4 linked regions of the Homo sapiens genome follow. The protein of the gene in region 3 binds, or shares a complex with, the protein of the main gene of each other region. Each region holds a gene or a part of one and is shown on either strand. Other genes may lie near its edges. A codon is read from its position in the direction of its gene.

Region 1 (7,373 bases), 6.5 Mb from region 3:
TTTTCCACACTCTAAAAAGTCAATCAGTCTTCCAGGTGTTGCAATACAGATTTCCACACCTTTAATTAAATACGTAAGTGTAACTACAATACCTAGGATATTTAGCACCAATGACAAATAAAACCCTTTTCATTACATACCTCTCTCCAAATCACGTATTTGTGGTCCCTTAGGAGCACCACCGTAGATACAAGTAGACTTCAAGCGACATGCTCTACAATATTCAGCAGCTACTTGCTGCACCTGTTGGGCCAGTTCCCGAGTTGGTGCCAGCACCAAACACTAAGGAAAGAGAAACAGCTTTCAGCACAAACCTGGATACTAGTTTTAAACTGCTAACTTATTATACTAGCAGATCCTTTCTTCATGTGTTGTCCAATACCCAAAACAGCTCCAGCTGAATAGGGTGAGCTAACCTCTATATAAAACCACCACAAATGATTACATCTTTAGCTATGTAGTCTAAAATCTACACATTATGCTTCTAATAAAAAGTTAAAAATATATACTTACAATAGGCCCATCGCCTCTCTCTAGGAATGGCTGATGATTGATGTGGACAATGGCAGGAAGCAAATACTATTTAGGGTGAAAGTGGGGACAAACAGAAATCACATTAAAATACTCGTTTTTAAATTACCATTACATTTTCTTGCATATATCAGATCAACTCAAGAGTTCTCCCAAACTTACAGACAATGTTTTCCCAGATCCAGTCTGTGCCACTCCAACCATATCCAATCCACTTAGAGCAACTGGCCATCCCTGAGCTTGAATAGCAGTGGGTTCAGTGAAATTCTGTCTTGCAATAACATCCATGACATTTGCTATAATTAGTAACAGATATTTAGTAAAAATTAGTGATGCCAAGAAAAAGAGGGGGTAGGTGGAAACAAAAACACGGGTAGGTAGAACTGAAAAGTAGCACTTACCAGGGAAATTGGCTTCATAAAAATTTAGAACTGGCTTCGGGCAGTTGTGACCTCTAACTGTAATTTCCTTGCTTCTTCTGTATGTTTCCACCTCTTGCTGCAAAACAAATTATAACAGTCTTAAAATTCATGACAACCACCCCTAGCTAAATACGTAATTGATAAGCCCCTAACTTCATAATTTAGTAACTAGTTTAAAGTAGCCTTCATTTTAATCTGGACCCACCTATGAACACCCTATTATGAAAAAAAAAATTTATTGTTATACTCAACCTAATTTAAGTAAAAATCCCAAAGCCACCTATATCCAAAAGTGAGTCACACCTTTCCCAATTATGAAGTCAGAACATGTAACTCTACCAAAATTGAGTTATTTGCAAAACACCTGTCAGAATTTCATTTACTAGAATCCACGATCGAGTTACAGCCTGATGAAGCCACATGAATTTACTCACTGCTGTGCGCCTAGCCAAATCAGGGTGCTCTTGATAAAAATTCTTCTCAAATTTAGGCAGCTCATCAAGATTCCACTTCTTTTTAACTAATTTCTCCCCAGGGTTTCCAAACTTCTTTCCAGATAAGGGCCCTGCCCTACTTCCTCCAAATCGAGGTGCACCAAACCTGGAATGAAAAAAAACGTTATTCACATTTTCAAATGGCTATACCCAGGTTTCTGTATAGATTTGTCATCCATTGGCACAAGCTAAAAACCACTGAAAACAGACTTCGAGAGGTAAACCTAGCACTGTCCTTCGTGAAAATCTCTCTCTCTCTCAACAGCCACAGTTAACATTTCCCGTAGTCCCAAGTACACATTACTTAGGTCATGTAAACAGCCTGGGATTTATCATGTCGGAAGCCGGGGATTTATCATGTCGGAAACTTGTCACCCACATGCCAGAATTTGGGATTCTGGCACACACCACTTCTTGTGGTTACTGTAATCTTCCCCACCAGCCTAGCAATTCACTATCAGCAATAACAAGGCTACATGAACCGAAGAGCATCACGACGATGTTACTCATATGGCCGTTTTGGAACCAAACAGCTTTAGTGGTAAGAACCTAAACAGTACAGTCAGCGATAACAGAACAAGGGTTTTCTCAGAAACACTTCTGCTAGCAAACCCAGCTGGGGGAACGCCGCGGTAGAGCTCCGGATCAACGAATCAAAATTATATAACGCAGGAAAAAAGAAAAGGAGGAGCCGGCGACTACCGGGGGAGGAGTCCCGGCCCGGGCGGAGTCGGCCGGGCGGCGTTCCCGCTGGGGCGGCGCTTCCCCCTTTGTCTCGCATTTCTCTCTGCGCCACATTTTCTCGACGCTGCCATTTTGAGCTCCTCCGCCGGGCGGGGTAACAAAGGCGCCGCCGCCATGTCCGAGGCCGGCATTTTGTACTCGCGACTCAGCCACATGGCTGATGCCGGCCGCCCTCCTACCCCAACAGCACCAGGGCTTTGGAAGTGGTCCCCTCGCTCCCACAGAATGCCCGGCCACCCCAAAAACACCTCCCGAAACGCCGCACCTAACAGATGTTCCTTCGTCTGCCTCGAAGCGTCCCGCTTTCATCCGCACAATACGCTCCCTCTCAACTCCCTCAACAGCTACCAAATGGCAGCCGCCCCGACAGCTCCCCAATCCCCACACAAAAAGCAAGCTTGAAGACACTACACCGTCAAATCTCTTCCAATCACTGTGACGTGAATATCAAAATGGCGCAAGCCTTCGGGAAAGGAAGTCCCAAGATAGCCCGGAAAGGCCAAGTCCAAGCCGCAAAGCCCCCGCCGGCCGCCACCCTGACCCGCCCTCCCATCCCCCCACCCGCCAGGCCTGACAGCTCGGCTCCCAAACTCACCCTCGGTCCCGGCCGCGGTCTCGGTCACTCGAATAACCCGACATGGCGTCAATGGTTGCGGTTGGCGGGGAACGAAGTATATAGAAAAGCGTGCGACAAGTCGCTGGAAATGGCCTCGATGACGGCGAAGCCTTGCGGGGGCGGCAGCGGAGGAAGGACACCGATGACACCAGCCGAAGCTGCACTACTAGAGACCGGTAGAAATGAATGAGGTGCCGGCCGCTTTCCGGCAGCCGCTTTTATAGTCTGGACCGCCTCCTACGCCGCAGGGAACGCTGGGAGCCGCTCTATGACCTAATCGCCCCGCCCCTCGCGCATAGGCCGCAACGCCCGCTGGCGTTCCAGGATCGCCGCGCTTTCACCCCTCCCCGCGCCACTCTCTCAGGTCAGGGCCCACCCACCATTGGAATGCCTCATTCTGCACTCTCTTGACCTCACCTTCTTCTGGTCTTTCCACACCTCAAGCAAGCCACCCCGCCCTTTCCCAAGCCCAGCCCCGCCCACCCTCGCCACTCGGAGATGTTTACGTCTCCAAAGAGCCCTCACGTCTGTAACCAAAAGAGGGGGAAGGCGGGGCCTGGCGTTGTCACGTGGCTGTACCACCCCGGACCACCGAGAGAGCGGTCCGCACTACTTTCCCGTTGACGTCGGCGGAGGGATACAAAACGAAATAGCTCACCGGAAGTGCGCTGCTCGCACCCCGGGACCCGCCCGGGCTGCCGGCTGATGTGGACCGTCCGACCCGCGTGTCTGATAATCCTTTGACGGGTTTTGGTCGGCGGAGAATGGTCTCTAAACTTCCCAAACCGCCCCCGTTTCACGTCCTGTGAAAGGAAGTGCTCCTCTGATGACCAATCAGCGGCGAGAAGCTCTTTTAACGTCCGTCCTTCTTTCACGCCTCCTTCCCCGCGCTTTGGTTCGTGCGTCCGCGCCCCAGTGTCGGGTCTGCGTGGATCGGTCCTTCCAGGACACCGTCGCCTTCCCGGCCGCGTCGGAGTCCGGCGGCGACCTGCCTCTGAAACATGGCAGGCTCGGATGCTGGTGAGTGTCTCCCTGGGGTCCCAGTATGTGTGGACTGAAACCGTCCACCTCCAGGGAGGCCTCGGGCTAGCCCGGACTGGGTCTGGGCTGTCGGCGGGGCTCGTGACCTTCAGACGCCGCGTCGCGCTGGCGGGTTCCCTGGATAGGGTCTCTCAGCTTCACCACCTCTTCGCTTCGAGGCCGTGGAACAGCAGTATGCTGTGGGAGAGAGAGAGGCACTGGGGCGAGGCCGGTAGGACACTTGGGTCCTGGCTGTAAAAAGAGCGGTCAGAAGGGTCGTCCCCGGACTTGTCTTTCTGTGGGGCGTCTAGCCGCTGTCCGTGTGCCCTCCGCCCTTGCACTATGGGCCCTGAGGTCGTACCTGCTTTTGTATTGGTCTTTAAAGGAACAGCATTCTTAAGATTTATTATGCCCCTGCAGAATAGTAGAATATGCCCCTGTAGAATAGTTGTGCTTTTTTCTCTTCAGTGCCCTCTAGAGTCATGGGCTTTGTCTAGCACCGCTTTTGAAGAGCGAATTAATTTGGTTGTCTAGGACGCTTTCATCCTTTTCACAAGGACTGCGTACAAACCAGTTGTCATGGTTTGGCCAGCTGTGAGAAATGGGCGTGGGGAGGGGGATTATGTGCATGGAAAATACACTCTCATTCGTTTCCAGAACGTTACGTGTCCAGAACATAGTGGAGATGTTTGTTTCTAATACCGATTGAAAGTGCTTTCCTACCAATTCCCAGGCATTTCAAGGAACAAGTATTTTAAGCTAAGTTACTTTTGGTACAGAAACCGTTAAACTTTGCAAATCCCAGCAATATCTAGGGGAGAGGAGAATGTGGTACGCAGGAAACGTCAACAGTATTGATAATTCTGAGCTTCATGTACTTCCCATATTTTCTTTCATATAGATCGATATAATAAAAAAGAAAAACTAACAAATGCATTACCGTTGATGTTGTTATTATACCAGTTCTTAACAGCCTAAGTTTAATCACCACTTTTTCCGGCACCAGAGAAACCCTGACTTGCACAAGATAATTGGGTAAACACAAGACCAATACTATTGCAAGTGCGAAGCAGCCTCCATTAATGAGTTTCTGGTAACCTCGGATTATCATTAAACTGTTGTTTATGACATAATATTCCTGTTTACTTGTAAATATGTTTTAACTAAAAACACCCATGTAAGGCTTATATAAGTAACTTAAGATTTTAGGCTGCAACAGTATCAATTGAATTTGCAGTATAGTTTTGACTATGTAGAAATTACAGCACTCTGGAAATCATCCCAAGAAATTAAATACATCTTTTTAAAAACCATGCCTAAAGGGTCTTTGAAATTCTCTAACAATCAAATTCCTTATCTTCTGCAAAGTTCAGTGTCTGTTTTTGTTGGGGGGGAGGTTGTTGGATTTTTTAAATGTCTGTGTGATTTTTTTCTGGTGGTTTTTAAGACTGATCTTTCCCCCTTTTTCCCAACAGAGTGGGTAACCATTGCCAATAACCTTCTTTTTAAGTGTCATATACATCTGAGAATACATGAACTTCAAGACTGTGATGCTAATGTTTTTATTGCTCTTTATCAGTCTATTTTGGGAGAAAAGGTACCAGGTAAGAATACTAAAAGCAGGAGTAATTTTGCCTATATCTTAGGCCAAAAGTTTTTAGTCCTTTAGTTAGATTCTTTGATATTTATAAAATTTCATTTTCTCTTTGCTTGTTTCTTTTTTTAATATTGCATATTAAATTCTATATTAATATACAATATTAAAATAAATATTGTATATTAAATTGTATTTAATATCACATATTGTATAATTATAATATTGTATTCCTTAAGGAATACCCTGTGGAACCCACTCATAATAACGGCCTTGAGCAGATCAGTTTGAGGGCTCCTGATAATCACGGCTTAACCTAATCATGGCTACTGCCTTGTGAAAGTTGCATCTTTTCTGTAAATGTACCTTCAAAGGTTGTAAAATTGAGTGGAGCTTGGGAATTTATTGGATTCTGTTACTTAACCAGTGCTAGGGATAAGAATTGATGCTTGTAGATGATGAACCTCATTTACCAAGACAGTTAATAAGCGCATATGTCCTTTCATCTTGCTCACCATCTCACTATGTTCAAGACCAGGGTGGTACCAACTCAGCTTAAGTGATCCTCCCGTCTACCTCCCAAAGTGATAGGATTACAGGCATGAGCCACCACGTCCAGCCTGTGCTGACCTTTTAAATCTTTATACCAATAATTCTAGTTGGCTATTCAAAAGGACATATAAGGGCCAGGCGCGGTGGCTCACACCTCTAATCCCATTACCTTGGGAGGCTCATCACTTGAGGCAGGTGGATCACCTGAGGCCAGGAGTTCAATACCAGCCTGGCCAATATGGCAAAATGCCATCTCTGCTAAAAATACAAAAATTAGCCAGGCATAGTGGTGCACGCCTATAAACCCAGCTACTTGGGAGGCTGAGGCAAGAGAATTGCTTGAGCCGGGAAAGTGGAGGTTGTAGTGAGCCAAGATCACGCCACTGCATTCCAGCCTGGGCGATAGAGCGAGACCCTGTCTCAATAAATAATAAATAAACATACATATGTGTATATATAAGAACGCTCCTTGAATGCCTGCTGTGTTTTTTTTTTCTTCGTAGAAAGTAGCCCATAGTTATGGGTTAAAGTATCATGTCTTGGCTCCCTTATTAGACTATTAGCTGTCTTTGAATTTAGGGACCACTTTATCTTCCTTAACATGGTGCTTCTTGTAAAGCATATTCATGTATATCTATATATCTATATATATATATATGGTGTAATAAATATTCAACCGTATTCAACCAGTCTAATATTGATAAATCGGTTCAATCAATAAATACTCAACCAGTAAAGATTCTGCTGTGTAGAGTTCAGGGTTTATTAACTTTATCTGTACTTTACAGCATGTTCTGTTTGGGCAGAGCCTTTATAGCAGTTGAGCATATTCAGTAGCCTAGTCAGAGACAATGAGATGAAAACTTGGCCTCTCATGGATACAAAATTATGTGATTTTTTCCCCCCCCAGACCTCATAGTTATTCCTAGGAGTCAAGAAGATGATGCACACAATGTACAAGCAGTAATTGATTCACTGGCCTTGGACTACTTGCAGGTCAGCTTGTCTCACATAACAGGTTGGTATATGTATAACTATCACATAATTATGCATTTTAGTAAAAATAATTGTTAGAACTGTAGACATTGTTTACTTAACCAAATGAGTGAGCTTATGGAGTAGACCAAATTGTAAGATTGAGCTAAGACAATCAACTGATAGAGGTCAGGTCCATACATGAGAACTTTTCCAGGAGAGCTGAACATTGATTTTGCAATTGATCTGGGTCTGAAACGTAAATATCCTAGCTGGTAATTTGAGGTGTGTTTTTTGTTTTTATGTTATGTTGTTTTATTTATTTTTATTTTTTGATTCAGAGTCTCTGTTGCCCAGGCTGGAGTGCAGTGGTGCAATCACAGCTCACTGCAGCCTCAACCTCCCAAGCTCAGGTGATCCTCTCA
Region 2 (7,489 bases), on a different chromosome or scaffold from region 3:
CTGATCCCAAGTCCCCTCAGAGTGACCCAAGACTTCATCTTGGGTTTTTCTGTTTGTTTTTTTGTGGGTATTTTTTTTTCTTTTTTTGAGACGGAGTCTCACCCTGTCACCCAGGCTGGAGTGCGATGGCACAATCTTGGCTCACTGCAACCTCTGCCTCCCAGGTTCAGGCAACCCTCCTGCCTCAGTCTCCCCAGCAGCTGGGATTACAGGCATATGCCACCAGGTCCAGCTAATTTGTTTTGTATTTTTAGTAGAAACAGGGTTTCACCATGTTGGCCAGGCTGGTCTCAAACTCCTGACCTCAGGTGATCTGTCTGCCTGCCTCGGCCTCCCAAAGTGCTGGGATTACAGGTACGAGCCACCGTGACCAGCCCATCCTGGTTGTTTTGTTTGTTTTTGTTTTTTGGAGATAGAGTCTCGCTCTATCACCCAGGCTGGAGTGCAGTGGTGTGATCTTGGCTCACTGCAACCCTCACCTCCCCGGTTCAAGCGATTCTCCTGCCTCAGCCTCTTGAGTAGCTGGGACTACAGGCGCATGCCACCATGCCCGACTAATTTTTGTATTTTTAGTAGAGACAGGGTTTCACCATGTTGGCCAGGCTAGTGTCAAACTCCTGACCTCAGGTGATCCACCTGCCTTGGCCTCCCAAAGTGTTGGGATTACAGGCATGAGCCACTGCGCCCGGCCTCATTCTGGTCTTAATTGAAGCTGCTGACAAAAGAACAGACACCTCCCCATGACTAAGCCACCATCAGGGAAGTCCCCAGGACCCCCAAGGCCCAGCTGGTGCTCTGCAGTGCTGTCCCTGGACCCCCACCCTCCATTCCTGGCCCTGTCTACAGAATGGGCCCTGACTCCCTATCCCAGCTCTACCCTGTCACTCCCTCTGCCAGGGCCAGGCGGGGAGCACGACAGATGGGCTGGACAGAGGGTGGTGCCTGGCATCCGTGTGCAGAGCTCCCTGCTCCACCCAGAGACCGGGGATCCTGCTGCTCCTGCACCTTCTGTCCTTACTCAGGACAGCCTCATGCTCCCCCAGGCCAGACTCCTGGGGTGAAGGAGCACAGGGAACTCACCCTGAATCCCTGTGTAGCACAAACAGAAGGAGGGGTGCTACCCTACCCTCACAGAGCCACAGAGATGCAGAGGGCCCCGGGACTGGGGGGAGACTACAGGGCCACCTCTGGAGGGAGTGCCAGAGCAAACATGGGAGCCAAGCAGCCCAGATGTGGTGGGTGGGGAGACTCAAATTTAGCAGGATTGAGGGTCAGAACTTGTTCTCCCAGGAGGAACCTTGGTCAGAAGGTCCTTGTGTTTATGCTGAAAAGCCTGACAGGGCAGCTCAGCCAAGAGCTGGGCAGGGGCTGGCTTGGCTGTGCTCAACTACCCTCTCAGCTGGGACTTGAGTCCCTTAGCGAATGTTCTGTGCCCAGTCCTCTGCTGGGCGCTGGTGGACCCCAGAATGGGGGTAGGGTGGGGACAGGGGACAGCTGGGAGCAGACATTGCGGATAGGATGGGGCAAGACTGGGGGAAATGCCTTCCCAGACACGCTGCGGCTCACACTGTCGCCTGATCTAAGGCCTGGATCACCTGCTTAGGAGCTGACCGGCCACTGGCATGGCACACCGGGCAAGAGAGCGCTGACTGCCCCCCTGCATTCAGCACCATCCCAGCTCCAATAGAGTGAGTACAAGATAGGTAACACCTGCCTTGTTTGGACCAGACCTCTAAACACCGCCCAGATCCCAGAGTAAAGGCAGATAAGGCAGTAGTTAAGAAGTAGGAAGAAGTAAAGGCAGCTACCCCAGAGAAGCTAAGGTCGGGAGAGGTGGAGGCTCCCACTGCACCCCCCTGGCCCATACCATAGGGGAGGTTTCCCCCACAGCAGCCTGGGTACTCACCTGAGGTTATTAGACAGCAGCATTAAGAGCCTACTCTAAAAAATACCCACGGGGCACCTTTCTTTTCCTTATTTCTAAATATGCCTGGATGTAGGGAAAGGGAGCTGAAGTCCTTTAGTTCCATTTTAAGTATGTTACATTACACATAGCTAAGAAACGGTGAAATATTGTAAGCAGCCAATATTTAATTATTTAAAAATTAAAATAGGCTGGAGCTCTCAGGCCACCTGCCCAGGGCGACTCCCCAGCAAACCGAGCAGTCTCCCTCAGAGTGGAGATGACATGTCTCCGCACCGGCACCGAGGGGGCGCAGGGCGGCGTGGGGAGGGGGACCCAGGCCGGGGGTCCGGGTGGCGCGCCCTCTCTCACCCCCGAGGCGGCAGGAGCAGCGCGGCGCGAGGACACCTCCGGGCCGTCGGTGCCCCTGAGCTTCCCGGCGGCGCGCTGCCCCAGGAAAGTTCCCGGCCTGCCGCCCCTCGGGCTGTTGGAAAGTTTCGGCGGCTGCAGGGCCCTGGCAGCTAGGCGCCAAGCGTCGCGCGGGGCGGGCACGGCTGCGGGGTCGGGCCGCGCTCGGCTGGAGTGCTCAGTGCAAGACGCCCGGACGGGTAGGGTAGGGCCCCAAGGCCACGCACAAAGAGACCCGCCCCCGCCGGCCCGGGGTCTCGGACGCCGCAGAGCGCGCGGACAAGACGCGGGTGGGGCGGAGATTGGCTCCGACGTCCGGCCCAGACCCTCGCCCGGATCTCGACTCCAGGGATAGGACCCTGTCCGGACCGCTGCCCGGAATGCGTCCCATATCTGCAGCCCCGCCCCCAGTCCCGGCTCCGACCCGAGGCCCCAGCCCCGGGTCCCACACCCCGCCCACTGGCTCAGGCTTACCTGGAGCGCAGCGTGGGCGGCCCCGCAGCGCGGCCTCGGACCCCAGAAGGGCTTCCCCGGGTCCGTTGGCGCGCGGGGAGCGGCGTTCCCAGGGCGCGGCGCGGTGCGGCGCGGCGCGGGTCGCAGTCCACGCGGCCGCAACTCGGACCGGTGCGGGGGCCGCCCCCTCCCTCCAGGCCCAGCGCGCAACCCGAGACCCCGGGCCAGCCCTCCCGCCCTCACGCGGCCCGTGCGCAAAGCGGACCGGGCCGGCGACGCGAATCTCCGCCCCGCCCCATCTGACAGCAAATTTTCCCATTGGTCGAGAGACCCGGCGCGGCACGGCAACCGGCGCCGATTGGGCGGATGCGCGGAGATGACGGCTTGCCATTGGGCCTCCGGGATGTCAGTCCCGGCGGATGACCGGCCCCCTCGCGGAGGGGCCGCGGCCCCGCACCTGCCCGAACCTCTGCGGCGGCGGTGGCAGGGTACGCGGGACCGCTCCCTCCCAGCCGACTTACGAGAACATCCCCCGACCATCCAGCCCCGAGCAGGGACTGGCAGAGCCGGCGCCCCTTCCCCGGACTCTGGCCGCGTAGCCTCCGCCACCACTCCCAGTTCACAGGTATCCTTCTTCAGCGCCTGCTACTCGCTGCGCGCTGCGCGCCGCTCCCTCCTGTCGACATCGAATTGTATTCTTCACGCAAGCCGCGAGAGAGAGTTCTGCTGCTATCCCCATTTTACAGTTGGGAAACAGCCTCAGAGAGGTTCTCACTTGCTTGAACACAGTCGTCTGACCCTGGGGCCTGGGGGCTCTCTCATCCTCACGCCCCTGGGTCCCCGCAGCGGGGAGACGATGGAGGTAGGAGCTGCAGTATTTCCGAGGGCAGGAAGGGACCCCCTCGGTAAACCAGGGGCTCACCTCCCCCACCAGGCCTGGATGTAGAGACCTCTTGGGCTTGTCCCACCCTGCAGGCCCCCCATGGGGCCGCCCTTTCTTACCTCCTCCTGGCATTCTCACAGCCCCACAGCTCTGCGTCTGGGGAGGCAGAGTTGTGCGTTTATGCCCGCACCCCGTACTACTGTCCCATTTTCTTCACCCTACCTGGAGTCAGGAAGAAACGGTGCTTCACTGCCTGTTGAGATTCACGTAGGTTACATTTCCTTGCCAGATTAAGAGCACCTGACATGAGTGGGACCATGACCCTCCGCCAGCTCTGCGTAACCTTGTGGTGTAGGGGGGAACCAGCAGGGATGCTGCCCAGTGGGCTTTTCTAGGGGGAGGTCCTGAGATGACTTCTTAGCCAGTGACCCTGGCTCACGCATGCTGTCATCCTTTCCTGCCCTGGATGCACCTGGAGATGACCAGTTCCTCGGCTCATTGCATTCTCCAAGGCCGCCTGGGGAACCAAACTGCCCACAACCATGCTTATGAGTGGTGGAGGGGTGTGACCAGACACTCTTGTCTTATCCACCCATATTGGGAGTCCAGTGTGTTCATCCAATCATTCCTTGGCCAGGACAAAGAAAATGAAATGGCCCAAGGCAAGAACTCACTGCTGGGACCACCGCTGGGTCCATCTGTGTGCTGGCAGCATGGTGAATCGATCCCAGCTGCCTTTCAGAGCCAGGCAGCTACTATCAATCGATTGGAGCTGGCACTTGACGTGCCAATTGGCCTCCTGGCATAGGGTTGTTGCTTGCTGCTCTGGGAGGGCAGAATGAAGTAGCTGTCCCTAGAATAGGGGCCCTCACAAACCAGGTAGCTGTCATCCTGTGGAGCAGCACCATGGTGACATTCTGGCTCAGGTGCTGTGTAGCTGAGGGGTCGTTTCCTCCATTTAGGAGTAGACGTAATGAGTCCAGCTGTCCCCAGCCATCTCTTCAAGGCCATTGGACCCTGGTTCTGCTGGAGCCCCTCTTCTCACAGTTACCTCATAGTCCTGCACCACCCCCTCCCCACACTTGCAAGAGGGACTGGACAGACCTCTGTTGAAAGAGTGCAAAAGACAGAACCATACACCAAAATCTGTGCAAGTGAGACTACCTCTCCTCTCATCACCACCCCTACCACCCATAGGGTTGCAGAGACCTGTCTGCCCTCGGCAGGCAGGATCATTAGCTGAGGTCAGAGGATGTCGGGGCAGCACCAATTCAAACAGGACTCAGGACCGCTGTCCAGCAGTCGGCCCATTAGGCTGCAGCCAGGGGTCAGAAACACAACAAGGGAGGCTGGGCGCAGTGGCTCATGCCTGTAATCCCAGCACTTTGGGAGGCCAAGGCAGGCAAATCACCAGAGGTCAGGAGTTCGAGACCAGCCTGGCCAACATAGCAAAACCCCATCTCTACTAAAAGAATACAAAAAAAAGTAGCGGGGCATGGTGGTAGACGCCCATAGTCCCAGCTACTTGGGAGGCTGAGGCAGGAGATCGCTTGAACCTGGGAGGCGGAGGTTGCAGTGAGCTGAAATTGCACCACCGCACGGCAGCCTAGGAGACAGAGCGAGACTCCATCTCAAAAAAAAGGAAAAAAGAAAAAGATAAGAAAAACACAGCAAGGGAGACCACAGGGACCAGTAGCCCAGTGTTCTCCCTCTCTCATCCTCTCACCTAGCTCCATGCGGACAGCTGTGAGGCCCCCGGAGAAAGCCACAGAGAGAAAATGCTTTCAGCTGGGTGTCAAGAACTTTTCAAGAGTGGCAGCTGTTGAAATCAAAAGAGTGGCCACAGAAGGTAGTGAGCTTCCTATCTGAGTTTGTGTGCAATTAGAGGTTGGATGCCAGTGAGCCTGTTGCAGCCCCAAGATCCCAGGGCTTAGGTGCCCATCCTAGACCCATTTCATCTGCCGTCACCTGCTTCCTGGCATCGCATGTCATCCAGACTGGAGTGTCAGTGGTGACAAAGAAGATCAGAGTGTCTGCTCTGGCTCTGTCTAGCTGGGAAAAGTATGGCTGGGGGTGGGGATGGCCCAAGGCCACAAGGTATGACAGAACAGGATGCAAACCACCATCTGACATGTTACTGCATCCCTCTTTGTGGGCAAAGGGAAACCTTGGTCAACTCATGTCCAGCTTTGAGGTGCATGGCCTGGTGCTTTGGGGAAGCCCATTCTCCAGGTGCTGCCATGAACCCCAGGGCACAGTCCATCACCCCCAAGCCCCAGATCCCACTTGTCCACCACCACCACCTCTTGGCCCTATAGATTGCATAGGTTTGGCTGCTCAGAGGGAAATCACTGGTACCAGCCCCACATGATCCCACTGCTGGATGGTGGGAGAGACAACCATGTCTGGCTGGGTCTGCGGCCCGCTGGCCATGAGTCCCTGGGCATCTGGAGTCCTTGTAAAAGGTTCTGTTGGGTTCCAGGGGAAACACAGATAAGATAGCAAAAGTGTGGAGCACAACGGGCCCGCATGTAGGTCCAGGTTAGACTCTTGCCGTTGCTGATTACCAGCCAGGCTCTTCCCATCCCTGAGCCCCAGTTTTCTGCAGGGCATCAGGGCACCTAGGTCTTCAACACAGGTTGAAGCTAATGTGGCCTCTCTTGCTTGCCACCTTTTTCAACTTCAACTGAATGACATAACTGCTCCAAGTCTCAGTGTTTACATCTATAAAGTGGGATGAAAGAACTGCTGACCCAGACATTGGGTTTAGAGTGCTTTACACATTATCATTATCCCTAATGTCTTTGTCATCCATGTCATAGTTTTTTGAATGCTCACTTTGAGGCAGGGCCTGAGCCTCTGGGCTTTGACTCTCCACCTTTCTGCCACATAGGCCCAGGCACAGCCCAGAGGCTACAGGAGCAGCGGTCCCAGCTAATGCCTCTGTCCTGTTGGGAGGGCCCCAGTCAGTGCCCACCTGCTCACCCTGCACAAGTCAAGCTGGGCCAGCCCCTCGTCGCTGGGGCCTGGACCTGGATGTGAGCTCAAAGGCTACACTGGGGGGTGGAAGTGGGGGAGGTGGTGGGTGTGCAGGGTATAGTGCTCAAATGCCTAGTCCAGGGTCTGGGGGTACATACTGGGAATGGCAGGGACATCAGGGAGGAAAGAGCCGACCTGGAGGCCATAAAGTGAAGGAAGGGATGACCAAGAGGAAGATGGCCAGGTCCAGAGGTGGGGTTGAGTGAACAGGATGGGGAGACCAGGACGCAGTCTGAGGGGGCCAGTCCGGAAGTGAGCATTCCTGTACCTCTTCCGAGAGAGGCCGCAGGGTGAGCAGGTGACAGATGGTGTCCATGAGGGCATGGACTCAGGGGCGGCTGCGACCTCCCATGGCGTCCCTGCAGGCAGGGAGCCGCGGAGTCCCCGAAGGCCGCTGGATCAGGAAGCGCTCAGACGCCCGCGCAGCCCGAAGCTTTGGCGCAGCCCCGGGGGCGGGGCGCCAGGAGGTGGCAGCCTCCGAGCGACAGCGCGCCCAGCCAACGGGACGCCGGCATGCGGCGCGCCGCCCCGCCCCTCGCTGCGCGGCCCAATGGTGAACGCGCCGGCTTCGGGCTGGGCGGTACTGGGCTGGCTGCGGTGGCGCGCGGGCGCGGCACCCGGAAGTCGGCGGCGGTGGCGGAGGCGGTGAGTGCGCGGCTCCGGGGCTGGCCGACTCCGCTAGTGGCCCGGCCGGCCTGGGCTCGGGGGCTCCGGGCTCTGGGCTCTGGGTGCGCGGACCGGGCCAGGCTGCTTGAAGGTGGGTGGGCTGGCCGCACTTCCTCACCCTGCCTCAGTTTCCCCTT
Region 3 (7,341 bases):
TTCCTGTCTTGGAGAGAAATACTTTGCTGTGGGGGCAGGGATCGTTTATCAGGTCTCAGGATCTGAATGAAATATCCCTCAAAATGATTCACCTTGTTTTGTTCTTATTTCCAAATAAATTGTTTACTTGCTTTTTTGATGTTTTACTCTTGTGGACTGAAATATGTTAACTCTGGATAACTGGTAACATCCTTAATTGTAATCATCACAAAGCTAACGCCATCCTGCAAGACCTGATAAAACAGCCGTCAAGACTTTTCCTGCCATATACTGACCTCATCATCAACTCCAGAACAGTTGGTTACATTCAAATACAAAAAAAGATGCCAACAGAAATAAGAATGTCCTATTCACTCTCAATTAAGTTTTACTTTGTACTGTGCTGAACTGAACAAAATCAGAAATTACTGCATTAAATTAGACAAGAATAAATCAAAGCAAATTCAGGTTGGGTGTGGTGGCTCATGCCTGTAATCCCAGCAGTTTGGGAAGCCAAGGTGGGCAGATCACTTGAGGTCAGGAGTTCAAGACCAGCCTAGCCAACATGATGAAACCCCATCTCTACTAAAAATATAAAAATTAGCCAGGCGTGGTGGCATATGCCTGTAGTCCCAGCTACTCAGGAGGCTGAGGCACGAGAATCACTTGAACCTGGGTGGAGGATATTGCAGTAAGCCGAGATCCTGCCACTGTACTTCAGCCTGGGTGACAGAGCGAGACTCCACCTCAAACAAACAAACAAAAAGCAAATTCAATTATATTTTTCTGGAATGAAATTACCTTGAAATTAAAAGTACCTATGTGTATTGTCTCATCCCTTCTTAAAATGAACTATCCAATTATAAACTACTGATTTCAGTTATCACTTCAGTTATCATTGACTTATGATTAACAGAAGCTTTGCCTGCATAAATTTAAACTGATGTATAAAAGAACAGAAAGAAAATGTGTTCAGCAAATAACTGTTGAATGAAAGAATCAACAGGCTGCAAGTTTTTAAAAACTCTCCTCTTTTCTGCCATTCACTTAATGGAACAATGCTAGAAACAGTAGATTTGTTGAAATAGTATCTTTTTTGGTCACCTTCTCATTTAAAAACATATCAGGCTCTGGCCAGGCACAATGGCTCATGCCTGTAATCCCCCCACTTTGGGAGGCCGAGATGGAAGGATCGCTTGACTTCAGGAGTTCAAAAGCAGCCTGGGCAACATGGCGAGACCCCATCGCTACAAAAAATACAAAAATCAGTCTGAAGTGGTGATGCATACCTGTAGTCTCAGCTACGAAGGACACTGAGGTGGGAGAATCGCTTGGGTCCAGGAGGTCGAGGCTGCAGTGAGCTGTGATTGCACCACTGCATTCCAGCCTGAGTGAAAGAGCAAGACCCTGTCTCAAAAAAAAAAAAAAAAAAAAAAAAAAAAGCCGGCCAGGTGCAGGGGCTCATGCCTGTAATCCCACTACTTTGGGAGGCCAAGGCCGGAGGATCACTTGAGGCCAGGAGTTCGAGACCAGCATGGCCAACATGACGAAACCCCGTCTCTACTAAAAATACAAAAATTAGCTGGACGTGGTGGCTCATGCCTGTAATCCCAGCTACCAAAAATACAAAAATTAGCTGGGCATCGTGGCACATGTCTGTAATTCCAGCTACTCGGAAGGCTGAGGCACAAGAATGACTTAGGCCAGGGAAGCAGAGGTTGCACTGAGCTGAGATCATGCCATTGCACTCCAGCCTGGGTGACAGAGGGCAACTCTGTCTCAAAAAAAAAAAAAAAATATATATATATATATATATATATATACACACACACACACAAACACACATCTATATATATACTTAAAGGATGGTCTGAAGAATAGGCAATCTATCCTTCCCTTGACAAATTTCAGAAGTTCTTTTTCCTTTTGGGATCTATGGACTCCTTTAAGAAGTTGATTAAAATTCCAAATCCTCTTCCCAGAAAAAAGTACACACATGCATATAATTTTGTACATGCACACATGCATATAATTTTCGAAAATATTACAGAAAGCTCAAGGATTACCAAAGGTCATCTGTAGATATACCGAGGATCTACGGCCACAAGACCAAGCATCCCTGCTCATTTCAAATTGAATTTGTATTTTGGGGTCACCGAGAAACATTTGTAAAATATATTTCATCAGCTTTTAGAATTAAGAAAACATGTCCTTCTCCTGAATGACCTATTTACTTTTATCCCAAAGGCACTTTGGATTTTGAATACACAATACTTCTGTACCCTTCTTTACCGTGACTTCTGGGAAGACTAAAGTAAAATTTGCAATCTATCTCAACAAATTCAACGGGCTTTCACTGCAGGCATTTTGTATAGTAATTTATGCGTATTTCATTTAATCCACCCCTCATTTTCCCATTCCTCTGATTTCTTACTCTAGCATTTTTTTTGTGTGTGTGTGAGATGGAGTCTTGTTCTGTCACCCAGGCTGGAGTGCAGTGGCGTGATTTCCGCTCACTGCAGCCTCCACCTCCTAAGGGTTCAAGAGATTGTCCTGTCTCACCCTACCGAGTAGCTGGGATTACAGGCACGCGCCACCATACCCAGCTAATGTTTTGTATTTTTAGAAGATACGGGTTTCGACATGTTGGTCTCCGACTCCTGACCTCAGGTGATCCGCCCGCCTCGGCCTCCCAAAGTGCTGGGATTACAGGAGTGAGCCACCACGCCCAGCCTCATCTAGTTTTCATGTTTTATGGTATCTCTGTAAGTTGCCTCACATCCTTGCGGAAAGGGACTACTGTAAATAAATAACATGAAGAAAATTATCCCTTAAATTCAGTGTGTAGATCTGTTATGGCAAATTTATGACTGCAGGGTTTGATTTTAATTTGTTGTTGTTTCCCCCTCCTTTTTTTTTTTTTTGGAGGAGTCTCACTCTGTAGCCCAGGCTGCAGTGCAATGGCGCCATCTCAGCTCACTGCAACCTCCGCCTCCAGGGTTCTAGCGATTCTCCTGCCTCAGCCTCCCGCGTAGAGTGGATTACAGGCGCCTGCCACCAAGCCCGGCTAATTTTTTGTTTTTTCAGTAGAGACGGGATTTCACCATGTTGGCCAGGCTGGTCTCGAATTCCTGACCTCAAGTGATCCAACCGCCTCGGCCTCCCAAAGTGCTGGCGTGAGCCACCGCGCCCAGCCTGATTTGAATTTTAATTCATTAGCGACGTTTAAAAATCCCAGGATTTCACATAAAAATCCAGATTTCAGACGTCGAAAAAAAATGTAAAATGTTATCTCCCAATGCCGCAGGCAAACAGGATCACAGTCCTGAATAGCAACCGCGGTATCTAGTGGTTACGGTTCTCACATCCATTTTGCTCCATTTTATTACCTGAGAGGACCGGTATTTTCAAAACCTGGTGTATCAGTAACTTTTAGGGAAAACTTTTGAAAAAAGGACTGCACACACGCACCCTTTCTTCCTTCTCGTTCTTTGAAAGGAAACAACAGAAACGATTCATTCTGCAGGCATTCTGCGCTAGTCCCACGGACAGGCGACTAACAAGAGATAAAAAGGTGTGGGTCCCATAGGCGGTACGGTGTTACCCCTTCTGGTTGGCGGGTACCACGTTGCCGGTCGGGATACGGACCCACTGCGACTAGCACTAGGAGTGCTGACCCGAGCTATGCAAAGTTCTGACGAGAAGGCGGAACGGTACTTAATGAAGAGGATTAAGGAATCTAAATCGGTTTCGCTAAATTAGACACATCTGTCTAAGCAGCCACGGTCTATTCGCAGCAGGGGCGGGAAGACAAACCAACGCCCCAGCTCTCCGTTCAATCACCCGCAACTCAGCTCTGGATTAGACGCACCCTACGAAGATACCCGGGTTTCCGGAGCAACCGCCCGGGCCGTCCCCCTTTGGCCCCGCCTCCGAGACTCTTTCCCGCCAAAGGCCGTTATCGCCGCAGAGCATGGTGGGACAACGCTTTAGGCTAGGTTTCACCAAGTGCTTTGAAGGCGCCGAGTTGCTTTCAAAGATCCTCATTCCTGGAGAAATCGACCATCCTTCAAGACCCGACCTGGATGACTAGCTCCTTTAACGAAAGTTCGTTATTTAACTTTTACCAAACGGCTGGTCACTCTGTTCGCAAACCACCCCAAGCTGGGAACGCGGGGGACTTTTTTACCCCCTTCGTGGGGAGGGTGACGTCGCGCGTGCGTGCGCGTGCGCTGAACGTAGCCCTCGCAGCACCCGTTGCGCTCCCGCGCGTGCGTGTTGGGATCGAATCGCTGTTTCCTTCCGCTTCTCTTCCTCTGTCTCCCCCCCATATCCGTGCGCCGAGCTGATAAAGGCGCCATTTTGGAGGGGCCGCGGGAGACGTGGTGCCGCTGCGGGCTCGCTCTGCCGTGCGCTAGGCTTGGTGGGAAGGCCTGTTCTCGAGTCCGCGCTTTTCGTCACCGCCATGTCGGGAGGTGGTGTGATTCGTGGCCCCGCAGGGAACAACGATTGCCGCATCTACGTGGGTAACTTACCTCCAGACATCCGAACCAAGGACATTGAGGACGTGTTCTACAAATACGGCGCTATCCGCGACATCGACCTCAAGAATCGCCGCGGGGGACCGCCCTTCGCCTTCGTTGAGTTCGAGGACCCGCGGTGAGGCGGCATGGGGCTTGCAGCCTTGAGGAAATAGGTCCGAGTAGTTGGGGAAGGCTCCAAGGCCTTAACATAGAGAACGGGGAAGCGGGGGCTCTTAGAGAGGTTGGGGCGAGACTGTATCGCCCATGCAGGAGTCGAGTAAGGAGCTGAGTTGATGTGGCTTCTCTGGCGCCTCGCCTTGGACGTCCCCGGAGCCCATTCGCAGGCTGGAGCGGGAAACTGAGGCGCTGAGGGCTGGTGTAGTGGTTGGGAGCCTGGCGTGTTTCTGGGTGGGGGAGGGGCCATTCCTATTATGCGGCGCATGTGGGCTCTTCCACGTTGGGTGCGCATGTGCGGGGGGTTTGCTGGTTCCCAACTGAGCGAGCTTCTCCTCCTGGTGTTTCTCATCCCTTTTACTTTCTGCGATCCCGCAGAGACGCGGAAGACGCGGTGTATGGTCGCGACGGCTATGATTACGATGGGTACCGTCTGCGGGTGGAGTTTCCTCGAAGCGGCCGTGGAACAGGCCGAGGCGGCGGCGGGGGTGGAGGTGGCGGAGCTCCCCGAGGTCGCTATGGCCCCCCATCCAGGCGGTCTGAAAACAGAGTGGTTGTCTCTGGTGAGTGTACTGGTTGTGTGGATTGATGTGAAGGGACGAAAACTACCTAAAATTTTTCTCTTGCGTGACAGGTTTAATAATTGCAAATTTTTCATGCTAGGTCTTAAATTGCTTTAGTTTTTGGGTGAATTTAATAAACGAGGATTGCTGCTGTGGTGATTTACCAAATTAGGTTGCGGTACTAGATACGAAGATCGTTACAAATAATTTTGGACTCTGGATTCCAGAATCTTACCAGCTCTCTTTACCTGGTATCACTTAAGTACACCTATTAAGTACTTTAAAGTACTCTTTGTCCTAATGTACCTTACCAGCTTAACGTGAAATTTAAGATAATTGGTACTAAGAAAAAAAAAATCACTTTTTCAGGACTGCCTCCAAGTGGAAGTTGGCAGGATTTAAAGGATCACATGCGTGAAGCAGGTGATGTATGTTATGCTGATGTTTACCGAGATGGCACTGGTGTCGTGGAGTTTGTACGGAAAGAAGATATGACCTATGCAGTTCGAAAACTGGATAACACTAAGTTTAGATCTCATGAGGTAGGTTATACACGTATTCTTTTCTTTGACCAGAATTGGATACAGTGGTCTTAACAGTGGAATTTCAAGGTAAGGATTCAGGCAAGGTTGTCCAAGTAAATTGCCAGATTTCTGGTTTTAGTTACATTGTATTCATTCAGCATGTCTGAAGATAGATGAAAGCTTAGATCTTTCAATGGAAAGTTCTGTCTATCCAATAGGGAGAAACTGCCTACATCCGGGTTAAAGTTGATGGGCCCAGAAGTCCAAGTTATGGAAGATCTCGATCTCGAAGCCGTAGTCGTAGCAGAAGCCGTAGCAGAAGCAACAGCAGGAGTCGCAGTTACTCCCCAAGGAGAAGCAGAGGATCACCACGCTATTCTCCCCGTCATAGCAGATCTCGCTCTCGTACATAAGATGATTGGTGACACTTTTTGTAGAACCCATGTTGTATACAGTTTTCCTTTATTCAGTACAATCTTTTCATTTTTTAATTCAAACTGTTTTGTTCAGAATGGGCTAAAGTGTTGAATTGCATTCTTGTAATATCCCCTTGCTCCTAACATCTACATTCCCTTCGTGTCTTTGATAAATTGTATTTTAAGTGATGTCATAGACAGGATTGTTTAAATTTAGTTAACTCCATACTCTTCAGACTGTGATATTGTGTAAATGTCTATCTGCCCTGGTTTGTGTGAACTGGGATGTTGGGGGTGTTTGTGGTTATCTTACCTGGGGAAGTTCTTATGTTTATCTTGCTTTTCATGTGTCTTTCTGTAGACATATCTGAAGAGATGGATTAAGAATGCTTTGGATTAAGGATTGTGGAGCACATTTCAATCATTTTAGGATTGTCAAAAGGAGGATTGAGGAGGATCAGATCAATAATGGAGGCAATGGTATGACTCCAAGTGCTATTGTCACAGATGAAATTGGCAGTATTGACCTTATACTAAAAGGCAGGGGTTAAAAATGATTATATACATTTTCCTTAAAACACTTGCAAACATTTTATTCAGTTGTCTTTAGCTACAATTGCTTTGCTTTTTAAACCTTGGCAATTGTGGCAAAATTATATTGCCCATTTTGTAGCAACTTATTTTGCTCCCTTCCCCCCATTTTTGTTTTAATAGGGACTAATGTGGGAAGAACTGGCTAATTTGTCACAGTGCTTAGTTACAACTGTTAATGTGTGACCTGCTGTTGGTGTACATGTGGGTACAGGGTGTTTTTAAATCCAACAAGATAGAGTATAATATCAATACTGCTAAATCTGCATGTCCTCTGTGTGACTGATAGAGCGTTGCTATTTCATTTTTTTAAGACAAAATGAAAGCAAAATATAGAGTTCCAATGTATTGGTGTAGATAATCTAGTTGGGAATACTTTTAAGTCTCACCTTCCCCTTTAAACTAATATTCATAATTGGTTCATATGTTTAAAAGACTTTAATTTACAAATTAAATTGCAAATGGGAGCATTAGATTTAGTTTTAGACTTAGGTGGGTAGCAATGCCAGTAAACTTAAATTACGTAACTTCTTGCAACCACGAAACCTGTAATACGCTGTACAGTAACAAG
Region 4 (7,020 bases), on a different chromosome or scaffold from region 3:
CAAAAAGGCTAAATACTGTATGATTCCACTTACATGAGGTACCAAGAATAGTCACATTCATAGAGACAGAAAGTAGAATGGTGGTTGCCAGGGATTGGGGCGGGGAGCAAATGGGCACCTATTTTGTTTAGTGGGCATAGATTTAGTTTTACAAGATGAAAAAGTTTTGAAGATGGATGATGGTGATGGTTGCACAACAATGTCAATGTATGTAATACCACTGAACTGCACACTTAAAAATGGTTAAAATGACTGGGCACGGTAGCTCATGCCTGTAATCCCAGCTACTTGGGAGGCTGAGGAGGCAAGATAGCTTGAGCCTGGGAGTTTAAGGCTGCAGTGAGCTATGATCGCACCACTGCACTCCAACCTGGGCAACAGAACAAGACCCTGTCTCAGAAAAAAAAAAAACGTTAAAATGCTAAATTTATGTTTTGAATGTTTTGCCACAAAAAAAAAAAAATCTATAAAACCTACTTTCCATTTCCTCCATAAACATCAGTGCAATCAATCACTGTAAAAGAATGCTGAAGAAATATCTGAAAAACTTTGGAAAAACTATTGTAATTAGAAAATATAGTAGTACCCTGATAATTTTACATCCTAAATCAAACTATCAACTTTGGCCCAAGGCCTGGCAAGACAAGAAACTAATCAAAATATGGAGAAATGCCACCACATAACAGACTACCATGGCAACAGAAATACTGTCACAAAATCACAAACATAGACTCCAATACTTCAAAGACATGAAATGTTCTATATTTGTACCGTACAGTACTTGGAATGTGGGTAAGTGCAAATAAGAAACTGATTTTAGGCCGGGCGCAGTGGCTCATGCCTGTAATCCCAGCACTCTGGGAGGCTGAGGTGGGTGGATCACGAGATCAGGAGATTGAGACCATTCTGGCTAACACAGTGAAACCCCATCTCCACTAACAATACAAAAAATTAGCCAGGCATGGTGGCATGCACCTGTAATCCCAGTTACTCGGGAGCCTGAGGCAGAATTGCTTGAACCCGGGAGGTGGAGGTTGCAGTGAGCCAAGATTGCACCACTGCACTCCAGCCTGAGTGACAGAGTGAGACTCCGTCTCAAAAAAAAAAAAAAAAAAAAAAGAAACTGATTTTAACTTTTACTTAATTTTAAGTTTAAATAGTCACACTAGACTGGTGGCTACTACACTGGATGACACAGCTACATTGGTACACTCTCTGGGAGAAAGATCTTTGGTTTTCATTATTTACATACTCCCAGTTTCTATCAGTGCAAGGCACAGAGTATTCCTAGACTGAACTCATCTACTGAAGTTGTATAGGAATATTTTCTATTTTCTAGAAGGCTTTCCTTTCAAAAGCATGTTTTGACTGGAAGGTGCAAGCATAAGCACACACAAAAAATGCCTAAACTTTCAAGATAAATCAGTAATGACCAGAGAAAAGCCAAAAACCCTAGGTTTTATAACCAGGCTAAAGAATCAATAAATTCCAAAAAGGAAAAGTACTAGCAAAGAAGTTTGAAGCTGATATTCCATGACCCATGTATTAATGTGTTCTCACACTGCTAATAAAGACATACCCAAGCCTGGGTAATTTATAAAGGAAAGGGGTTTAACTGACTCAGTTTCACATAGCTGGGGAGGCTTCACAATTATGGCGGAAGACGAAGGAAGAGCAAAGCGACGTCTTACATGGCGGCAGGCAAGAGAGAGCTTGTGGAGGGGAACTCACATTTATAAAACCATCAGAACTTGTGAGACTTATTCACTACCACAAGAACAGTATGAGGGAACCCCCCATCATGATTCAATTACCTCTACCTGGCCCCACCTTGCCACAAATCGGGGGGTATTATTACAAGGTGAGATGTGGGTGGGGACATAGCCAAACCATATCAACCCAAGACCTTTCTGATATGATATCTAAGAAGAAAATTCCTATGGACATGTGATAAACCAAACATGACAATGCCAACTTAGTCTATCAAAGCATGACTTTACTTCATCTGCTTTGTGCTTTTGATGCTTTCCATCAAAAAGCTGCATACACCCATGCTGAAGCATGCCTATTCAGTTTCCATACTGAACTATAAAACTTTTGAGGTAATATCTAACCCAAAGATTGTCTCTGTAAAAGTTATCTCCTACTTACAACTTAAATTAAAAACTTATAACTGAGTCGCTTAAGTAATTGGCCCTATGAAGAGATGGTCTTTCCTTCAATAGCTCTCTACAACTTCTACTAATTTTGGTTAGTAGGGGTGGACAAATGAAACTACTAAATATACAGGACAGGCTACTAAGATTCCTTTAAGATCTGCCTCAAAATACTCTCTTTCAGAACACTTTGAAGTTATCAGTGATATCTATCTATCACATAAAACAACCATGGCTGTACATCTCCAAAAATTTTGGTGGAAGTTTAGAGCAATGAATACAGATTCTTCAGAAAATGGCTGTTTTATACAAATATTAGAGAAAGAGAAAAGATGCTAACTCACAGTACAGGCTAAAGCATATTCAAATTATACCTCTATACCACGTCTACTGTCACCAGGTCATTCGAACTATACTCAATTACTCTCGGATTAGTTAGGTGGGGTGGTAGAGAAGAATAAGGATAATAGTTTCACAAATACATATTCTTGAAAGTAGTTTTTTAGCAAACCACACAAATTCTATGCCTTACCAATTTCAAATGGATGTTAAAACACTATAGTTATTACTACAGTTAAAACACGCTTTTGTTCCAGTAGACAAAATCTTCCGGAAAGAAAAAAACCACCACACACATTACTTTTGGTTACAAATGCCATTTAGTGACCACTTAAAGAGAGCCTTGGCCAGGCACAGTGACTCATGTCTGTAATCCTAGCACTTTGGGAGTCTGAGGTGAGAGAAGTGCTTGAGCCCAGGGGCTTGAGACCAGCCTGGGCAACATGGCAAGACCCTGACTCTACAAAAAATACAAAACATTAGCCAGGTATGGTGGTGCATGCCTGTAGTCCCAGCTGTCCAAGAGGCTGAGGTGGGAAGATCACCTGAACCCAGGCTCAGGTGAGCAAGGCTGCAGTGAGCAGTAATCACACCTCTGCGCTCCACAGCCTGGGTAACAGAGTGAGACCCTGTCTCAAAAAACTAAATAAATAGACCAGGTGCAGTGGCTCACACCTCTAATCCCAGCACTTTGGGAGGCCAAGGCGGCCAGATCACTTAAGGCCAGGAGTTTGAGACAAACCTGGCCAACATGGCAAAACCCCAATCTCTACTAAAAATACAAAAATTAGCCGGGCATGGTGGCATGTGCCTGTAGTCCCAGCTACTTGGGAGGCTGAGGCAAGAGAATTGCTTGAACCCAGGAGGCGGAGGTTGCAGTGAGCCAAGATGGTGCCACTGCACTCCGGCCTGGGCAACAGAGTGAGACTCTGTCTCAAAAAATAAATAAACAAAGAGAGCCTTATTGAGTCAAAAAGTTCCTCTCCCTTTCTGTACCTGAATATTTGCAAGTATGAAATGAGGGCAACATATACATCTCATAAAGGATTTAAAAAAAAAAAAGAAAGAAAAAAAAAGACTGGAAAGACTGAAGAGCATTAAAGGTGCTGAATATTGTTTATTTTTAACCATGTATATGGTGAAAAGTGACAGCAAAAATAAATAAAACTCGCAGATAAAGAAAAATGTGAGTTATCCAACTGAGTATCTGCATGTATGCACTTCTGACAATCAACATTTTTAAGAACCTGTGTGTGAAGTGTCTTGATTGTTTATCTTAATAACCATGGTTTATTTCTTCAACTATGGGTATTGGACTACATAAACAAATGTGACAAGAATCCCAGTCTAGTAGGGGAGGCAAAACACTTATTTTCAAAAAGGTTTATAAAAAGGCAAACACAATGAAGTAAAGTTCTCTAGGCATTCATTGGGGGCTGAAATCACTTTTGGCTGAAGAGAAGCAGGTAAGCCTTGAAGGAGAAAGCAGAATTTAGGTTGGGCTTTCAAAAGATGAGTTAGTTTCTGCATTTGAAGAAAGGGTTGGGAAAGGGTAAAAGCAGAGAAGAAAGTAAAGTTGGGCAAAGGCGGCATCCACTCTACCCCAAAATATTTGTGTACTATGAGAAATATTTCAGCTATTTGGATGCTGATGGGAAAGACTCAGTAAAGGAGTCTAAAGATGCAGACAAGACATAGGATAAACCAAAAGATCAAGGTCCCAGAAATTTCAGAAGATTGAGAGATGCAAAGCACCTAGATCTGACAAGAGGAGAAGCAGCTGCATACAACCATGCTGAAGTCTGACCAAATTGGAGGGGAAAGGTGATGGTGTATTTATAAAATGACTAGAATGATAGATCTTGGAATCCACATTTGGTAAGGAGAGAAGTAAAAACAAGAAGACCTAATAAAGAAGAAGTAAGGAACAGTCAATGAACTGAGGTTTTGATAAAATTCAAGAACTAATGCAGGGACTTCTGTTTAAAATGACTAAACTAACTGATTGAACACAGCTGTCTGCTTTCAGGTCCTTCCAAAAATCCAATAAAAATCAGAGTAAAGATCTTTTTTAAAAAAGGCAAAAACACATAAAGACAAAGAAAATGGAAACAGGTGACAGATATCAATAGAACTGTGGAAACTGGAAAGCTAAAGGACAGTGTTAACTGTCTTAGCAGATCCGAAAAGGCTGATATTTGCCTGGGGGTGGGGAGGGAGGATGAGACGAGAATAGGGAAGGCAAGGGACAAACTATTCATGTTGCAAAACCCAGGAAGACTGGGGAATTGGAAGCACAGGTACATCTGAAGGCAGATGCACAGGCGGAACAAAAAATAAAGGAGTGGAGCTGGATGTGGTGGTGTGCACCTGTAATTTCAGCTACTCAGGAGACTGAGGAGAGAGGATTGCCTGAGACCAAGAGTTCGGGTCCAACCTGGGCAATATAGCGAGACCCCAACTTTTCTTTTCTTTTTTTTCTTTTTTTAAAAAGGGTGAGGTGGGGTGGGCTGGGCGCAGTCACTCATGCCTGTAATCCCAGCACTTTGGGAGGCCAAGGTGGGCAGATCACAAGGTCAGGAGACCGAGACCATCCTGGCTAACATGGTGAAACCTTGTCTCTACTAAAAAATACAAAAAATTAGCTGGGCATGGTGGCAAGCACCTGTAGTCCCAGCTACTCTGGAGGCTGAGGCAGGAGAATGGCGTGAACCCGGGAGGCGGAGCTTGCAGTGAGCTGAGATGGCGCCACTGCACTCCAGCCTGGGAGACAGCGAGACTCTGTCTCAAAAAAAAAAAAAAAAAAAAGGGTGGGGGGGGAATCGGCTAGTAATGCAGCCTTAAAACAAAAAAAGAAAAAAGTTTAAATAAATAAAAGGGTCAAAATCTGTGTAAGAAGCAGTAGACTCCTAAATTTCCTCTCTGACTCTGAGCAACCAGGCTACTACTCTCCCACCATAACAGAAGACTCAAGGTTTACTGTGGAAAGATTGAAGTAGGTGGTCTCTGGACTCTTAGACAACAGACTCAGCTAAAGACAGGAGTATCATGCTGAAAAACAAGAGATTAAATTAAAACCTACATACTTAGTTGTGAGATCCATCCCCTGGCTTCATTCCCTGAACTGGCTTTAGAACACTGGCAGTCTAGCTTATAACCCCCAGGCTGACTAGAGAACTCAAGGTAAAAGCAGCCCAAGAAAAACAGACCAACAGAAAAGCAATGAGAGAAAGGATGAAGGTTCCCTTCTCGATGATCCATTAAATGGAAGAGTAACCCAAGAAAACATCATGGAATCCAAGAATCAGTGGATCCAGCACAACAAAGAGGCAAAGGGAATTCCCTAGGACAGTGTTTATGGAATCCCATGACAGTAATTATCCAACAGACCTAGCGAACCAGGCCAGACTGGAGCAGGGAAATGGAGGGCTCTTGGGATACATATTTCCTTTAGCCAAAAAAGAAAACAAATCACCAGTCTGAACAATGAGGATATTTACAGTACTGAGATTTGAGGGTGACTTATTGTGGATACCCAGAAAACAAAATGTTAAAAAAAAAAAGAGGTATTTGATTACCAACAGGAAAAAAAAGGTTCCACAAAATTTTGTTTTAAAAATAAAACTTAAATATTAGTAAAACTACATAAAGATTTCAAAAAAAACTAGGTGACATTATTTGATATTTTTGAGCCAGCAAACTGGAAAACAGTGGGTTATGATCACAGCAGAATGTCTGAATCAGTGATTTGGAGGTGTGGTGACTTTTTTTTTTTTTTTGTACAATCTTGCTGTTTCCCAGGCTAGAGTGCAGTAGCGAAATCATAGCTCACTCAGTCTTGAACTCCTGGGCTCAAGGGATCCTCCTGAGTAGCTGGGACTATAGGCAAATGTCACCACACCCAACTAATTTTCCTATTTTTTTGTAGAAATGAGGTCTCGCTATGTTGCCCAGGCTGGTCTTGAACTCCTGGGCTCAAGGGATCCTCCACCTTGGACTCCCAAAGTGCTGGGATTACAGGCAAGAGCCAATGGGCCTGGCCTGGCTGGCAACTTTTTTGTTTTTTTTGAAATGGAGTCGCGCTCTGTCGCCCAGGCTGGAGTGCAGTGACACAATATCAGCTCACTGCAACCTCCACCTCCTGGGTTCAAGAGATTCTCCTGCCTCAGCCTCCTGAGTAGCAGAGACTACAGGTGCGCACCACCACGCCCAGCTAATTTTTGTATTTTTAGTAGAAACGGGTTTTCACCATGTTGGCCAGGCTGGTCTCAAACCCCTGACCTCAAGCGATCCGCCCGCCTCAGCCTCCCAAAGTGTTGGGATTACAGGCGTGAGCCACTGCACGCCCAGCCTGGGTGGTGGCTTTTTAGTAAAGACAAGATCCAGGGTGTGATTGTGTGACCAGGTGGCTAAAGAGAATGAAGAGGTAAAGGAATCAGAAGGCCAAAGTGTTAGCTGAACTGTCAATCCAGATGCTGAAGTTGCCTAAACGTGATGTGTTACTGCTGGATATTTTCCAGATCCA

Evidence for each region.
Region 1: SRSF1 (region 3) and DDX5 share a complex: the UniProt entries of both Homo sapiens proteins name them as parts of the ribonucleoprotein complex.
Region 2: SRSF1 (region 3) and ARVCF share a complex: the UniProt entries of both Homo sapiens proteins name them as parts of the ribonucleoprotein complex.
Region 4: the proteins of SRSF1 (region 3) and TNPO3 are in contact, whole or in part, in a crystal structure (PDB 4C0O), measured with the Homo sapiens proteins. Residues at the interface, in NP_008855.1 of Homo sapiens: Ser116 (codon at 5,206), Arg117 (codon at 5,209), Arg118 (codon at 5,212), Ser133 (codon at 5,626), Trp134 (codon at 5,629), Gln135 (codon at 5,632), Lys138 (codon at 5,641), Asp139 (codon at 5,644), Arg142 (codon at 5,653), Glu143 (codon at 5,656), Gly145 (codon at 5,662), Asp146 (codon at 5,665), Cys148 (codon at 5,671), Tyr149 (codon at 5,674), Ala150 (codon at 5,677), Asp151 (codon at 5,680), Val152 (codon at 5,683), Tyr153 (codon at 5,686), Arg154 (codon at 5,689), Val172 (codon at 5,743), Arg173 (codon at 5,746), Asp176 (codon at 5,755), Asn177 (codon at 5,758), Arg181 (codon at 5,770), His183 (codon at 5,776), Tyr189 (codon at 5,994), Ile190 (codon at 5,997), Arg191 (codon at 6,000), Arg198 (codon at 6,021), Pro200 (codon at 6,027); in NP_036602.1 of Homo sapiens: His155, Arg157, Arg160, Thr167, Tyr254, Ile256, Glu257, Glu304, Glu340, Ile341, Phe343, Asn344, Tyr347, Arg348, Glu351, His352, Lys355, Thr356, Arg620, Asn656, Glu660, Arg661, Arg664, Arg667, Phe668, Arg671, Ser698, Cys699, Tyr702, Ile706.

What each region holds. Positions count from the first base shown.
Region 1 is NC_000017.11:64,503,290-64,510,662, forward strand, and holds the start of DDX5 (probable ATP-dependent RNA helicase DDX5), read right to left. Parts: upstream 3,001-7,373; 5' UTR 2,831-3,000; coding exon 2,787-2,830; intron 2,649-2,786; exon of another isoform or gene 2,501-2,648; coding exon of another isoform or gene 2,457-2,500; intron 1,554-2,456; coding exon 1,388-1,553; intron 1,030-1,387; coding exon 933-1,029; intron 828-932; coding exon 694-827; intron 580-693; coding exon 514-579; intron 283-513; coding exon 141-282; intron 60-140; coding exon 1-59. Other genes in the region: CEP95 (centrosomal protein of 95 kDa), read left to right, coding at 5,140-5,431, 6,884-6,991. UniProt on the Homo sapiens protein: Involved in the alternative regulation of pre-mRNA splicing; its RNA helicase activity is necessary for increasing tau exon 10 inclusion and occurs in a RBM4-dependent manner. Binds to the tau pre-mRNA in the stem-loop region downstream of exon 10.
Region 2 is NC_000022.11:20,013,804-20,021,292, forward strand, and holds the start of ARVCF (splicing regulator ARVCF), read right to left. Parts: upstream 3,021-7,489; 5' UTR 2,786-3,020; intron 1-2,785. UniProt on the Homo sapiens protein: Contributes to the regulation of alternative splicing of pre-mRNAs.
Region 3 is NC_000017.11:58,004,241-58,011,581, reverse strand, and holds the start of SRSF1 (serine/arginine-rich splicing factor 1), read left to right. Parts: upstream 1-4,335; 5' UTR 4,336-4,444; coding exon 4,445-4,638; intron 4,639-5,054; coding exon 5,055-5,239; intron 5,240-5,608; coding exon 5,609-5,781; coding exon of another isoform or gene 5,782-5,835; exon of another isoform or gene 5,836-5,981; coding exon 5,982-6,176; 3' UTR 6,177-7,341. UniProt on the Homo sapiens protein: Plays a role in preventing exon skipping, ensuring the accuracy of splicing and regulating alternative splicing.
Region 4 is NC_000007.14:129,045,099-129,052,118, forward strand, and holds part of TNPO3 (transportin-3), read right to left. Parts: intron 1-7,020. UniProt on the Homo sapiens protein: Importin, which transports target proteins into the nucleus. Specifically mediates the nuclear import of splicing factor serine/arginine (SR) proteins, such as RBM4, SFRS1 and SFRS2, by recognizing phosphorylated SR domains.